2 separate regions of the Homo sapiens genome follow, and region 1 is linked to region 2. The links come from fine-mapping of genetic effects on gene expression. Tissue or cell type: whole blood. Region 2 holds a variant in brackets; the other region holds the start of a gene. All regions are shown on one strand. Distances are between the middles of the regions.

What was found. PIP is the estimated chance that this variant, and not a neighbour inherited with it, causes the effect.
Region 1: it holds the start of DENND5A, and the variant in region 2 is fine-mapped to the expression of DENND5A in whole blood (TOPMed, PIP above 0.99).

Annotation. Positions count from the first base shown.
Region 1 is chr11:9,260,639-9,268,743 of GRCh38, forward strand. DENND5A (DENN domain containing 5A) reads right to left here and starts at 4,712. Exons shown (of 23, transcript NM_015213.4): 1 at 4,323-4,712. The coding sequence starts at 4,431. RefSeq lists silencers at 225-284, 4,154-4,513, 4,564-4,663 and enhancers at 3,244-3,583, 3,744-3,863, 4,944-5,013.
Region 2 is chr11:9,321,660-9,329,764 of GRCh38, forward strand. No RefSeq gene overlaps it. Among named protein-coding and RNA genes, the nearest start is that of TMEM41B, 11 kb to the left of the region's middle. The variant A/G (reference allele first, on the strand shown) is at 3,416.

The DNA.
Region 1 (8,105 bases), 61 kb before region 2:
AAAGAGCTTCCTCAACCAGAAAACAAAATTAATTTTCACACATTCCTCAATTCCTTGCACAAAAAACAACTACATTACTTGCCTAAATGCTGAGTCTGCAAGAAAGGGAAAGAAGTGACAGGAAGAGATTCCTACAAAATCCAATTACCTCAGTCTATATTAAACACAGCAAGCTCTATGCTTATTTGGGTTTTTTTATTTTTTATTTTTAGTTGTATTTGTTTATTTGAGACAGGGTCTCACTCTGTTGCTCAGGCTGGAGTGCAGTGTCACAATCTCAGTTCACTGCAACCTCTGCCTCTGAGACTCAAGTGACCTTCTCACCTCAGCTTCCTGAGCAGCTGGGACCACAGGTGCATGCCACCACACCCAGCTAATTTTTTGTACTTTCTGTAGAGATAAGAGTCTTGCCGTGCTGCCCAGGCTGGTCTCAAACTCCTGGGCTCAAGCAATTCACCCACCTCAGCCTCCCAAAGTACTGGGATTACAGGTGTGAGCTACTGCGCCCAGCCTCCATGTTTATTTGTTGCAGACAGAGAGGAATGAATCTTAACCTTTCTCCACAAAACAAGAAGGAACACCGAGCATCTTTGATTTGCTTATTCTGGGTTCACTTTTTAAGAATGTAGATGCTACCTGAGCTATGTAAGTTAACTGTGTGGAGTGCACCTTCTTAGAGACTCCTTAATACCTTCTTGGAGAACCTGGCTACAAATTACAATTTCCTGTAGTTAGTTACTGAGTATGATATCATCAGTTTGGGAGCTACAAGGCAGGCTGAGGAGAGAAAATGCACCCTGGAGACTCTCAGGAAGAACCTGCTATTTGTACTCTGCTTTGTTTTATTCAAAGATTCCCTCTGGGAGTGGTGGCTCACGCCTGTAATCCTAGCATTTTGGGAGGCCGAGGTGGGCAGATCACTTGAGGTCAAGAATTCAAGACCAGCCTGGCCAACATGGTGAAACCCCATCTCTACTAAAGATACAAAAATTAGCCTGATGTGGTGGCACGCGCGGCTCATAATCCCAGCTACTCGGGAGGCTGAGGCAGAATTGCTTGAACCTGGGAGACGGAGGTTTCAGTGAGCCACTATTGCAGCACTGCATTCCAGCTGGGGCAACAGAGTGAGACTGTGTCTCAAAAAAAAAAAAAAAAAAAGATTCCCTCTGGATAGTTCAGATTCCCCTACCAACCCACCAGAAATGAAATGAAGAGGGAAAAAAAATCCTTCCAACACTGCATACTCTAACAAAGGCCACCTATCGGAAATGTGGTCTCGGCATTCCACTACTGCAACCACATTTTTAAAAAAACAGAAAATACCCCTCTTTACACATTTTATACAACTCATCCCCCTTTCTTTATTATCCCAATAAACTTTCACAAGGATATAATTTTAGCTTGCCAAAAAGCCAGATAATTAACACATATCCATTAAGACAGTAACATTTCTTTTTTAATGAAATGTTGAAAGACAGTTTTTAAACATTTTTGAAGGTCTACTTGATGAGATTATTTTTATTTACATTCTTTTTTTATAGATGAGGACCCTGACAGGGTTATCTCTAACTTGCTCCCAATCACAAAGATAGTCAATAGGAGAGCAGGAATATTACCCTAAACTCATGCTCTCGCTAACAGTTAACTTCCCAGCTTCATTCTTATGCTCTATCATTCGCAAAACATTCTATCTTCTCAAACCAAGTGTTCATACAATTTGACACTCAAAAACACGCATAAAAAAAAGTTTATTCCACCACCTTAGTTTCTTTTACTGAGAAGAATTATGTTGTTTTTAATATTTCTCAACATGTTAGTGTTTTCTAAAGACCTCCAGCCAGGCCAATGAGATGCAGTTTAATGTCATGAGAAGAGCACTGGACCAAGCAATTAACTAGTGTATACAGGCCCCACTGTCCTTCCTGGGCCTCATTTTCCCCTCTGAGGTCCCTTCCAACACCAATACCCTGAACCGAATTCCAAAAATTACATCAAAGTCACAAACTTACTACATATGAAAAAGATGAAAAACATCTGTACTATAAGAATTTGAAGACCTTAAAAGATAAACTTGAACAATTATTAGGTACTCATCAAAATAATTTTTTTTTTTTGGACGGAGTCTCGCTCTGTCGCCCAGGCTAGAGTGCTGGAGTGCAGTGGCGCGATCTGGGCTCACTGCGAGCTCCGCCTCCCGGGTTCACGCCATTCTCCTGCCTCAGCCTCCTGAGTAGCTGGGACTACAGGCGCCCGCCACCACGCCCGGCTAATTTTTTGTATTTTTAGTAGAGACGGGGTTTCACCCTGTAAGCCCGGATGGTCTCGATCTCCTGACTTCGTGATCCGCCCGCCTCAGCCTCCCAAAGTGCTGGGATTACAGGCGTGAGCCACCGCGCCCGGCCTAAAACTAAAATTTTTTTAAAGTAAATTAGAAACCATAAAACTACCCCGACAAAAAGCCTAATATTAATTATATTACTGCTTCATATTTTCTCCACCTGCTATTGAGGAAATAGCTCATTTTTTTCTAACCTTGTTAAAGCATGAATTTATCATGCTTTTTTCTTCTTTTTCTTTTTTCCCAGACAGAGTCTCGCTTTATCACCCAGACTGGAGTGTAGTGGCGCAATCACCCAGACTGGCGCAATCTCAGCTCACTGCAACCTCCCCCTCCTGGGTTAAAGCGATCCTCCTACCTCAGCCTCCTGAGTAGCTGGGATTACAGGCACGCGCCACGACGCCCGGCTAATTTTTGTATTTTTAGTAGAGACGGGGGTTTCACCATGTTGGCCAAATTGGTCTCGAACTCCTGACCTCAGGTGACCCGCCCGCCTCGGCCTCCCAAAGTGCTGGGATTACCCCTGAGCCGCCGGGTGGTGGGCCACCGCGCCCCGCCTAATTTTTTTTTCATAAGAAACACTGGGCCGGGCGCGGTGGCTCACGCCTGTAATCCCAGCACTTTGGGAGGCCGAGGCGGGTGGATCATGAGGTCAGGAGATCGAGACCATCCTGGCTAACAAGGTGAAACCCCGTCTCTACTAAAAATACAAAAAATTAGCCGGGCGCGGTGGCGGGCGCCTGTAGTCCCAGCTACTCGGGAGGCTGAGGCAGGAGAATGGCGTGAACCCGGGAAGCGGAGCTTGCAGTGAGCCGAGATTGCGCCACTGCAGTCCGCAGTCCGGCCTGGGCGACAGAGCGAGACTCCGTCTCAAAAAAAAAAAAAAAAAAAAAAAGAAACACTGGACTTTTTCTGGTGCCCAAAAACAAAACTGTCTTGTCATCGTTGAAGCCGAGTAAGATTAGTCAACAGGATAATCACTTTCGAAAGAGAAACTTTACAGTGACAGAAAAGTGAAAAGGAGTCCCCCTCATCAGGATGACACAACCTTAAAGTACAACCCGACAAACCTCCACCCACTTGAAACCCACTAACTGGAAACTCCAGACAAAAACTTATTTTCAAAACTGTTACAATTCAAAGACTCCAATGACAGTGCAGTGGAAAATTCACGGGGACTGTATAATTTTCACGGCCTTCTGCAGTGAGTGCCAAATCTGGTCAGGGCCCCATCTTTGACTCCCCTCATCACTTTCCCTTTCAAATATGACTTGAAACGCATCAGAACACACCAAGCCTCTCCAACTACAATGCTGCTACCCTTTTATTCACAAACGCCTCTGTCCTCATAAAGGACATAAATTACTTTTCAAAAAAGGCATGGCCCCGGGATACAAGCCCTTTCCAAGGCTAAGGGAGTTCCTACTCTTCTTGGTGCCGCCCAAGTTCACTTTATTACTTCATATCCCATCCAGACGCGCAGAGCTGCAATCTGACTCAGGGGGCCCAGCCCAGGGCTGGGGTATAACGGTTTTGAGGAACTAGTATCACAAGCTTCTTGGGAAGTGGCCAGATAAACTCACCAAGTTTTTGTTTTCCTTTTTTTTAAGTCTGGGTGGAACTTACTTTCACTAGGACGTGGGACGCCTTCCCTCCCTAATGGGTGCCAGAGGACAAGCTTTCCTTTATTTTAAACGAAGTCACTCAACCTACACCAAACTGAGAACACACAACCCTCCCTCTTTCTGGTCGCCGAAGACGTGGCCACTGCGCAGCGGGCCGTAGGTTTGGACCCCTCATGGCTCAGAGCCCCTCATCCGTTTCCCCCCTCCAGTCCAAAGCCCCCTTCGCCCGCGCCCGCCCTGGTCCTCCCGGCCGACACTCGCCCGGCTCCCGGGACAAAGCGGGGCTGAAGGAAGGTTTCTTCTGGGGTCCCCGACGACAGCGGGCGCGGGAAAGCGCCCCGGGCTCGGCGCGCACTCACCCGACAGCTCGTCCGGCTCCAGCCCGGTCTCCGTGTCCAGTCCGCAGATGACAAAGTAGTCGGCGAAGCGACTGGGCGCCGAGCCCCCTCCGCCGCCGCCGCCACTCATGGCGCCGGGGCCGAGACCGGCCGGGCAGTGCGGAGCGGCACCGAGCCCCCGCAACCCGGGCGCCCGCCCGTCCGCCCTCAGGCCGCCCCTCCCGCCGCCGCCGCTACCGCGGCTCGGGCCGCCGCCCCCGGCCCTGGCCCGGTCCCCTCGGCCGCCGCGGCTGCCGTGACGGGGCGGGGGGGCACCGGGCCGCCCCGCACCGCATCCTGGATGCCTTCCCCTCCGCGCCGCCGCCGCTGCAGCTAGCCGAGAGCGCCGCGGCCCGAGCGAGCCTGGAGAAGGGCGGAGAGCGCGTGGACAGCCCCCACCGTGACCCTCCTCCTACCGCGCCTGCGCAGGCGCCGTCTGGGAGGGGGCGGGCTCCTGGGGGAAAGGATGACGTGATGCTCTTCGGACCCCGCCGGCCGCAGCTTCCCGGGAGGTCGCCGCAGCGCAGCCGGTGACTGCTTGGTCGCCCGCAACTGCCACTCCCCCGGGATTGAGACTCCTTTAGGGAGGGCTGAGGAGGTGCGAGAAGAGTGGGCGCAGCCTGCAGAGCCGGGCATTTGGCCCATGCTCTGCCCCCAACCACCCACCCAGCAAGCAGAGGTCCAGAGATCTTAGCGCGGCCTTGCCATGAGGATGGGGTCTCACGACTGAGCTCGGAAGCTCACCTAATCCTAGCTGCAGCGTGTCAGCCTAGACCCCAGACAGGGCCTTCTCCCTGTCCTCTCTTTTGGCAGGGGCGGATGAGCCGGTTTTATATTTACCCTTATTTTACAGACGGGGAAACTGAGTCTCAGAAAGAAGCAAGGACTTATCCAAGGTTACGCTGAGTCTAAGAGACATAAGCCTGGTCTGGAATCCTGGGCTTGTGGTCAGCTCCCCGTTCCTCGCCGCTCCCACCTCCCAGCCTGCCCTTTTCCCACGCTCTCTCCTTTTTTCTCTGGAAGCCTCCAGAGGCGCCTGCCATTTGGGAGCTCCTCTTCCTCTTCACTCTGTGAAAACTCTCAGATCCACCCCTAAACCTGTTTTCCTGTAAGAGGATAGGGAGGAGGCGAAGGGAAACTTACCTATTGGTCCTTGTCCTAGGACCCTCCGATTTCCTTTCCCATAGAAGCTAGGCAGATGTGTCTTTGTTGGAAACTGGAGATCAGAGGCCAGAAAGGCAACACAGGTATAGTGGTCACTAGCATGGGCTCTAGAAAAAAATGCTCGGATTTCAATCCTGACGATCATTTACTTTTGACCTTGAGCAAGTTAATCTCTAAGTGCCTGGCGTCATGGTTTTTGAGACAATTACATAAGGTAAATGCAAGTACAGGTAAAACAATGAGAATACTGCCTGGAACATGGAAATCACTCAGTAAATATTACAGATTTTTTTTTTCAAGACGGAGTTCTGTCTTGTTGCCCAGGCTGGAGTGCAATGGCGTAATCTCGGCTCACTGCACCTCTGCCTCCCAGGTTCAAGTGATTCTCCTGCCTCAGCCACCCAAGTAGCTAGGATTACAGGCGCGCACCACCACACTCGGCTAATTTTTTGTATTCAGTAGAGACAGGGATTCACCGTGTTGGTCAGGCTGGTCTCGAACTCCTGACCTCAGGTGATCCGCCCTCCTCTGCCTCCTAAAGTGCTGGGATTACAGGCATGAGCCAATGAGCCCCCAGCCTGGATTATTATTATTGTTCCAGAAGGAAGTACTCTTACGGTTTGTTCTGGGAGGCTGCCACTAAGAGCTGTAGAAGGCAGCTGGCTTCCCCAAAGGCTGAGCCTAGGCTCTCTCCTAGGTTCTCCTGGGTACTTCTCTCAAATATTGTTTCCCTTGGGGAGGTTTACCTAGAGGTTATAGCCATTGTCTCTCGGAGCCATAGCACCTGTTCCTCCCTGTATCTAACCTGCCTGAACTAGGGGGAGAAAAGTGGGGAGGAGAAGGTTGCTTCAAAACGCCCATTCATGGTGATGCTCCACCCGTATCCTGCATGCTGGGGACACAGAGACAGTAGAGGGGGATTAGTGAGTTAAACAGTCACAGAGGCTGGGCGTGGTGGCTCACACCTGTAATCCCAGAACTTGGGGAGGCCAAGGCTGGCGGATCGCTTAAGGTCAGAAGTTCAAGACCAGCCTGACCAATATGGTGAAATCCCATCTCTACCAAAAATATAAAATTAGCAGGGTGTGGTGGCAGGCAACTTTAGTCCCAGCTCCTCAGGAGGCTGAGGCAGGAGAATCGCTTCAACTCAAGAGGCAGAGGTTGCAGTAAGCCGAGATCGTGCCACTGCACTCTAGCCTGGGCAACAGAATGAGGCTCTACCTCTAAATAAATAAATAAATAAATAAATAAATATGCCAGGCGTGGTGGCTGACACCTGTAATCCCAGCACTTTAGGTGGCCAAGGCAGGCAGATCACGAGGTCAGGAGATCAAGACCATCCTGGCCAACATGGTGAAACCCCATCTGTACTAAAATTATAAAAATTAGCTGGGTATGGTGGTGCCTGTAATCCCAGCTACTCAGGAGGATAAGGCAGGAGAATTGCTTAAACTCGGGAGGTGGAGGTTGCAGTGAGCCAAGATGGCGCCACTGCACTCCAGCCTGGCAACAGAGACACCCTGAAAAAAAAAAAAGAAAAAAAGAAAGTTACAGAGCACAGAAGGAGGACATCTTTCCAGATTGGGGAATGGTCAGGGAAGGTTTCCAGAAGGAGGTATATACTCTGACCTGAGTTCCAGAGGATCAACAGGAAGTTTCTCAGGTAAAAAGGGGCAGGGAAAGATGTTTAACTCAGTATGTGTAACAACAGGGAGCAACAGATAAAAGGGTATGTTCAGGCATCAACAAGTAATTCATTAACATTAAGATGGGAGATGGAGAGTTTAAAGGGAATGAAACCAGGGCAGGGGAGGAAGAAGGAGAACAGAGGAAGGAGGCATGGATTCAAATACCAGGCTAAAGAATTTATCCTCGGCCAGGCGTCGTGGTTCACACTCACGCTGGTAATCCCAACACTTTGGGCAGCTGAGGCAGGAGGACTGCTTGAACCCAGGAGTTTGAGACCAGAGTGGAGAACATAATGTGACCCCTGTCATAAATAAATAAATAAATAGTATTTTTTAGAAATAATTTATCCTATAAGATATATGAGTTGAGGATGAGTGAGGTAAAGTAAAGGAATTCAAGCCAAGGAGTGATATCTGACCCAAATCTGAGAATGATCACTCTAGGGGTGATGTGGAAAAAGAAATTTGAGAAAGGAATAAACGTCCTCAACTGAAAAGTCCAGAAACTTTTTATCCAAGGTGTCCAGGGTGATCTGGTGCTAGACGACCTCTCATATTAACTCAACTCGTAAAACACAAGTTAAAAACGAATGCATAACTGTATTAATTTGCCCTGGGAAATGTAACTGCTCAGAAGCCCAGAATACTCAACTGTGAAGTGATCTCCTTCCCGGTAGGAAATAAGTTTGGCAGAGTGATTGCTTCTTAGAGAGTCAGAAAATATAGAAAGGGATGCTCTTAAGATTTTTTCTTTTTTTTTTTTTTTTTTTTTCTGAGAGAGTCTCGCTCTGTCACCCAGGCTAGAGTGCAGTGGCGCCATCTCGGCTCACTGCAACCTCCGCCTCCCAGGTTCAAACGATTCTCCTGCCTCAGCCTCCCAAGTAGCTGGGACTACAGGCGCGCGCACCATGCC
Region 2 (8,105 bases):
AAAAAGAGCCTATGACTCTTTCTTTCTTTTTTTTTTTTTTTTTTTGAGACAGAGTCTCACTCTGTCGCCGAGGCTGGAGTGCAGTGGGGCGATCTCAGCTCACTTGAACTTCCGGGTTCAAGCGATTCTCCCACCTCAGCCTCCCAGAGTAGCTGGGACTACAGGCGTGCGCCACCATGTCCACTGCTTTTGGTTATTTTATTATTATTATTTTTGAGGCAGAGTCTCGTTCTGTGGCCCAGGCTGGAGTATGTTGGCACCATCTTGGCTCACTGCAACCACTGCTTCCCGGTTTCAAGCAGTTCTCCCGTCTCAGCCTCCCAAGTAGCTGGGACTACAGACCCGTGCCACCACGCCTGGCTAATTTCTGTATTTTTAGTAGCGATGGGGTTTCACTATGTTGGCCAGGCTGGTCTCGAACTCCTGACCTCATGATCCGCCCGCCTCAGCCTCCCAAAGCGCTGGGATTACAGGCGTGAGCCACCACGCCCGGCCTCACCTATGACTCTTTCTAGGCAACATCTAGGTCATGACTTCAACAACCGCGTATTATACACAGATGACAAATGTTTATCTTAAATGCCAGAATGATATACATAGAACTTAATACACATTTACGCCAGGGTGTACCACGAACATCTCAAATTCAGCATATCCAAATCTGAAATGAATATATTACCTCTCAAACTTTATCCACTCCCTGTATTCACAGACGTTGCAGATGACACCACGAGCTCCCCTTTTGCTCAGGCAAATCTAAGAATTCTCATTTAACATTTGTTAAATTCAACTTGTGAAATGAATGAATGAATTCCTTCTTGTCCTTTGAGAAAAGAAAAACTTTTATCTGAGAAATGCAAGTCCTTTAAACTGTCAGGCCCAGAAAGACATTCAAATGAGACCCCAATCATGTCCTACTCCTCCCTTACAAGCTATGTATTCTTCTCCTGAAACTGCCTGCAATTGCCACAAGTAGCTATAAAGTAACCTAAAAATGATGCACTGGACACAAATAATCCGCACACTGTAGTTTAACAATGTATAGCCAATCACTAATCAATGTTATGTGTGTAAACCAATGAGAATTCCTGACAAACAATTTTGCATCAGACTGCTCCCTGTCCCCCTCTTTTACCTTAAACAAAACCCTACTTGTAACAAAGCCTGGATGGAGCTCATCTCCAAGGTTACTTGTGTCTGAGTCTTCTGGGCAGCTGTCCTCACTTGGGCTCAAGTAAACTCTTTATATTTTGTGCCTCAGCCTCTTCCTTTTAGGTCGACATATTCACACCCCCATCCATTCAAATGCCAGGTCCAGGCAGGTCTCCAACTCCTTACTCTTTATTTGTTTGTTTGTTTGTTTATTTACAGAGTCTCACTCTGTCCCCCAGGCTGGAGTGCAGTGGCATGATCTCGGCTCACTGCAACCTCTACCTCCCGGGTTCAAGCAATTCTCCTGCCTGCCTCAGCCTCCCAAGTAGCTGGGATTACAGGCGCCCGCCACCACGCCCGGCTAATTTTTTGTATTTTTAGTAGAGACGGGGTTTCACCAGTTGGCCAGGCTGATCTCAAACTCCTGACCTCAGGTGATCCACCCGCCTCAGCCTCCCAAAGTGCTGGAATTACAGGTGTGAGCCACAGTGCCCAGCCTCCTTACTCTTTCTTTATTTAGATATCATGATTTCTCTTCTTATTCACCTCTAATCAGTTTTCCATATTGTTGCTAGAGCGGTCTCCAAGAAATAATCTTGGGCCGGGTGCAGTGGCTCACACCTGTAATCCCAGCACTTTGGGAGGCCAAGGCGGGTGGATTGCCTGAAGTCAGGACTTCAAGACCAGACTGGCCAACAGGGTGAAACGCCATCTCTACAAAAATACAAAAATTAGCTGGTTGTGATGGCACATACCTGTAATCCCAGCTACTCAGGAGGCTGAGGCGGGAGAATTGCTTGAGCCCAGGAGGAGAAGGTTGCAGTGAGCCGAGATCATGCCACTGCACTCCAGCCTAGGCAACAGCAAGACTCTGTCTCAAAAAAGAAAATAATAATAATAATAATAATAATAATAATAATAATAATAATCTTGAAGCCCTTCATGATCTGACATAACCTCAAATGATCCAGCTGACTTTGAATCCAACATGAATGAACAAATGAATGAATGAGTGAAACAATTTTGAACCACATGTAGTAAGTACCCTGAACATGTCATACTCATTTGTGTTTCTGTGTCCTTGCAGGAGTTAACTCTTTGCCTTTAATGTCTTTTTTTTTTTTTGAGACAGAGTCTTGCACTGTCGCCCAGGCTGGAGTGCAGTGGTGCGATCTCAGCGCACTGCAAGCTCTGCCTCCCAGGTTCACACCATTCTCCTCCCTCAGCCTCCTGAGTAGCTGGGACTACAGGTGCCTGCCACCACGCCCAGCTAATTTTTTGTACTTTTAGTAGAGACGGGGTTTCACCGTGTTAGCCAGGATGGTCTCGATCTTCTAACCTCGTGATCTGCCCACCTCAGCCTCCGAAAGTGCTGGGATTACAGGTGTGAGCCACCGCACCCAGCCTGCCTTTAATGTTTTCTGCTTAGTGTTTCCTAAGATCAACTACTGCTTATCTTTGAAGAGTTGACTTAAGGTCAACTCTTGTCCTGATAGGTACATTCTCTCCTGGATTGCCACAACTCTTGTCCTGATAGGTACATTCTCTCCTGGATTGCCACTATTTTTGTAATTATCTAATTATATTTTAATGACTTCTTATCTGCCACCAAACTATAAGCGCCCTTTGGTGATTCAGGACAGTGCCTTTCTCAACATGTTTTTGTACAATGAAGGCCTTTGAAATACATGAAAGCTTTCCAAATGCCTATAAACACTACAGCATTAAATATGAGTCTGTTGCTCAGCAGAGATTAAAACAAAGTCTGATGTTGAAAACACTTACATGGCCAGGCCTGGTGGCTCATGCCTGTAATCCCAGCACTTTGGAAGGCCAAGGCGGGTGGATCATCTGTGGTCAGGAGTTCGAGACCAGCCTGGCCAACATGGTGAAACCCTGTCTCTACTAATAACACAAAAATTAGGCCGGGCACGGTGGCTCACGCCTGTAATCCCAGCATTTTAGGAGGCCGAGGCGGGCAGATCAGGAAGTCAAGAGATCGAGACCATCCTGGCCAACATGGTGAAACCATGTCTCTACTAAAAACACAAAAATTGGCCGGGCATGGTGGCTCATGCCTGTAATCCCAGCCCTTTGGGAGCCTGAGGCGGGCAGATCACCTGAGGTCAGGAGTTCGAGACCAGCTTGGTCAACATGGTGAAACCACGTCTCTACTAAAAATACAAAAATTGGCTGGGTGCAGTGGCTCACGCCTGTAATCCCAGCATTTGGGAGGCTGAGGCGGGCGGATCACCTGAGGTAC[A/G]GAGTTCAGGACTAGCCTGGCCAACGTGGAGAAACCCTGTCTCTACTGAAAATACAAAAAAATTAGCCAGGTGTGGTAGTGGGTGCCTGTAGTCCCAGCTACTCGGGAGGCTGAGTTAGGAGAATCGCTTGAACCCGGGAGGTGGAGGTTGCAGTGAGCCGAGATCGCGTCACTGCACTCCAGCCTGGGCAACAGAGCGAGACTCTGTCTCAAAAAAAAAAATACAAAAATTAGCCGGGCATGGTGGTGCACACTACTCTGGAGGCTGAGGCAGAAGAATTGCTTAAACTCAGGAGGTGGAGGTTGCAGTGAGCTAAGATCTTGACACTGCACTCCAGCCTGGTGACAGAGCGAGACTCCCATCTCAAAAAAAAAAAAAGAATAAAATACCTAGGAATACAGCTAACCGGGGAGGGAGGTGAAAGATCTCTACAATGAGAATTACAAAACACTGCTGAAAGAAATTAGAAACAATACAAACAAATTGAAAAATCTTCCATGCTCATGATCATGGATAGGAAGAATCAATATTGTTAAAATGGCCAAACTGTCCAAGCAATTTACAGATTCAATACAGATTCAATGCTATCTCTATCAAACTACTATTGACATTTTTCTTTTTCTTTCTTTCTTTTTTTTTTTTTCGGTGGCGAGGGACATAATCTCACTCTGTCGTCCAGGCTGGAGTGCAGTGGCCCAACCTTAGCTCACTGCAACCTCTGCCTCTCAGGCTCAAGAGTTTCTCCTGCCTCAGCCTCCCGAGTAGCTAGGATTACAGGCACCTGCCACCGTGCCCGGCTAATTTTTGTATTTGTAGTAGAGACAAGGTTTCGCCAGGTTGGCCAGACTGGTCTTGAACTCCTGACCTTAAGTGATCCACCTGCCTCCCAAAGGAGGCTGAAGCCAACCGATCACTTAAGGTCAAGAGTTCAAAAATTCTAATTTTCACAGAATTAGAAATATACAGCCAGGCACGGTGGCTCATGCCTGTAATCCCAGCAATTTGGGAGGCCGAAGTGGGCAGATCGCTTGAGGTCAACAGTTCGAAACCAGCCTGGCCAACATGGTGAAACCCCATATCTACTAAAAATACAAAACAATTAGCCAGGCGTGGTAGTGGGTGCCTATAATCCCAGCTACTGGAGAGGCTGAGGCAGGAGAACTGCTTGAACCCAGGAGGTGGAGGTTGCAGTGAGCCGAGATTATGCCACTACACTCCAGCCTGGGGCAACACAGCGAGACTCCATCTCAAAAAAAAAAAAAAAAGACATTCTAAAATTCATTTGTAACCAAAAAAGAGCCCAAATAGCCAAAACAATCCAAAGCCAAAACAACTTCAAACCAAACTACAAGGTTACAGTAACCAAAACAGCATGGTACTGGTACCATAGACCAATGGAATAGATTAGACACGTAGACCAATGGAATAGATTAGAAAACCCAAAAATAAAGCCACACACATACAACCATCTGATCTTCAACAAAGCCAACAGTAACAAGCAATGGGGAAAGGACTCCCTATTCCATAAATGGCACTGATATAACTAGCTAGACACAGACAGAAGTTGAAAGTATACCCCCTCCTTACACCATATACAAAAATAAACTCAAGATAGATTAAAGACTGAAATGTAAAACCCCAAAACTATAAAAACTCAGAAGAAAACCTAGGAAATACCATTCTGGTTGTGGGCCCAGGCAAAGACTCCATGATGTCGACTCCAAAAGCAATTGCAACAAAAACAAAAATTGACAAGTAGGACCTAATTAAACTAAAGAGCTGCACAGAAAAATCAATTATCAACAGAGTAAACAGAGAAGCTACAAAATGGGAGAAACTATTTGCAAACTATGCTTCTGACAAAAGTGTAATATTCAGAATCAATAAGAAACTTAAATCAACAAGCAAAACCCAAGGAAACCCATTAAATAATGGACCAAGGTTAATTTGTGCAGTAGCAATAGAAAAAAAAGGAAAAAGATGGGCAAAGGAATTGAATAGACACTTCTCAGAAGAAGACATACATGTATGGCTAGGCACCGTGGCTCATGCCTGTAATCCCAGCACGGTGGGAGACAGAGGCAGGCAGATCTCACCTGAGGTCAGGAGTTCCAGACCAGCCTGGTCAACATGGCTAATCCCCAACTCTACTAAAAATACAAATATTAGCCAGATGTGGTGGCACACACCTGTAATCCCAGCTACTCAGGAGTCTGAGGCAAGAGAATCACTTGAACCTGGCAGTCAGAGGTTGCAGTGAGCCAAGATCGTGCCACTGCACTCCAGACTGGGTGACAAAGGAAGACTTCGTCTCAAAACAAAAACAAAAACAAAACAAATTCCAGGCCAGGTGCAGTGACTCACGCCTGTAATCTCAGCAATTTGGGAGGCCGAGGTGGGTGGATCATCCGAGGTCGGGAGTTTAAGACCAGGCTGGCCAATATGTTGAAACCCCGTTTCTACTAAAAATACAAAAAAAAGGCCAGGCACTGTGGCTCACACCTGTAATCCCAGCACTTTGGGAGGCAGAGGCAGGCGGATCATGAGGTCAGGAGATCGAGACCATCCTGGCTAACACAGTGAAACCCCATCTTACTAAAAATACAAAACAAAATTAGTTGGGCATGGTGGCGGGCGCCTGTAGTCCCGGCTACTCAGGAGGCTGAGGTAGGAGAATGGCATGAACCCAGGAGGCGGAGCTTGCAGTGAGCTGAGATTGTGCCACTGCACTCCAGCCTGGGCAACACTGCAAGACTCCGTCTCAAAAAAAAAAAAAAAAAAAAAAGCTGGGCATCATGGTGCATGCCTATAATCCCAGCTACTTGGTAGGCTAAGGCGGGCGAATCACTTGAACCCAGGAAGCAGAGATTGTGGTGAGACAAGATCGGTCCACTGCACTCCAGCCTGGGCAACAGGGTGAGACTCCGTCTCGAAAAAAAAAAAAAAAAAAAAATCCTAGCTAGATTGTTTGCAGAATTTGACAAGCTGATCCTAAAATTCATATGAAATCCAGGGGACCCCCAATAGCCAAAGCAATCTTTTTTTTTTTTTTTTTTGAGATGGAGGTTCGCTCTTGTCGCCCAGGCTGGAGTGCAATGGCGTGATCTCGGTTCACTGTAACCTCCGCCTCCTGGGTTCATACAATTCTCCTGCCTCAGCCTCCTGAGTAGCTGGGATTACAGGTGCCTGCCATCGCGCCCAACTAATTTTTGCATTTTTAGTAAAGATGGGGCTCACCAGGTTGTAAAGGCTGGTCTCGAACCCCTGACCTCAGGTGATCCACCCACCATGGCCTCCTAAAGTGCTGGGATTACAGGCGTGAGCTGCCACGCCCCGCCTATATTGTATTTTCTGAAGTTTTTGCAATTGGTTTGTGTTACCTTAATAATTAGAATAAAGCAATTAAAGCAAAAAGATTTTAAATGCTTGTAATGTTAGTGGGCATACAATTTTTGCTATGCTTCTTTAATTTAATATCATGTGGGCACAGTGGCTCACGCCTGTAATCCCAGCACTTTGGGAGGCCAAGGTGGGTGGATCAGGAGGTCAGGAGTTTGAGACTAGCCTGACAGATATGGTGAAACCCCATCTCTACTAAAAATACAAAAAAATTAGTCGGATGTGGTGACGTGCACCTGTAATCCCAGCAACTCAGGAGGCTGAGACAGGAGAATTGCTTGAAACTGGGAGGCGGAGGTTGCAGTGAGCCGAGATCGTGCCACTGCACTCCAGCCTGGGCGACAGAGCAGACTCCATCTCAAAAAATATATATATGTATATGTATATATATAATAATAATTTAATATAATGTGAAGTCTTCTTACCTCTTCCTTGACTAGAGGAATTTAGTGAAAACAGCATCTTCTCCCTGGGCTGTGGGCAGGAAATGGAACCCCTAAGCTTTGCTTTGTCAGATGAGGAGACCTCAGGCTAAGGTGGGAATGGAAATAGTTTAGAAACAGAAAAAGAAGAGCAGTTTCTCAGAGAGCCAGAGAAGGAGGATGTTGTCCTAAAAATAGATTAGAATGTGGTGGCTGGAGTCAGGCATTCTGAACTAATCTTCAAGTCTTACTATTCAGGAAGCTGTCAGACAAGGCAGACCAAAAGCCAATAGGATCAGGTCCCTGGAAACCAGCTGGTGAAGCTGGAAAGAAGAAGCCGACTATGGTTGCAGGGTAGCCAGGGTCTGCACCTTCCAATACTGGGGCAGCAGTGAGTTCTGTCCCCAAACTGTTTGGGGAAAGGCCTAGGCTCCTGTCAAGGGCAATCATCCAGGCCAACCTCCCTGGATTGACATCACTCAAGTTTCAAAAGAATGGAGGATGCTCAGCTGGACTTTCATTTACTTATTTTGAGACAAGGTCTCACTCACTCAGGCTGGAGTGCAGTGGCACGATCTCGGCTCACTGCAATCTCCGCCTCCTGGGCTCTAACGATCCTCCCACCTCAGCCTCCCAAGTGGCTGGGACTACAGGCGTGCAACACCACGCCCAGCTAAACTTTTTTGTATTTTTTTTTGTAGAGACAGGATTTTGCCATGTTGCCTAGGCTGGTCTCAAACTCTTAAGCTCAAGTGATCCTCCCATCTAGGCCTCCCAAAATGCTGGGATTACAGGTGTGAACCACTGCACTTGGCCTCAGCTGGCCTTTCATTTGTACTGGGTGGAGAGAGTGCTGGACAGGAGTCCA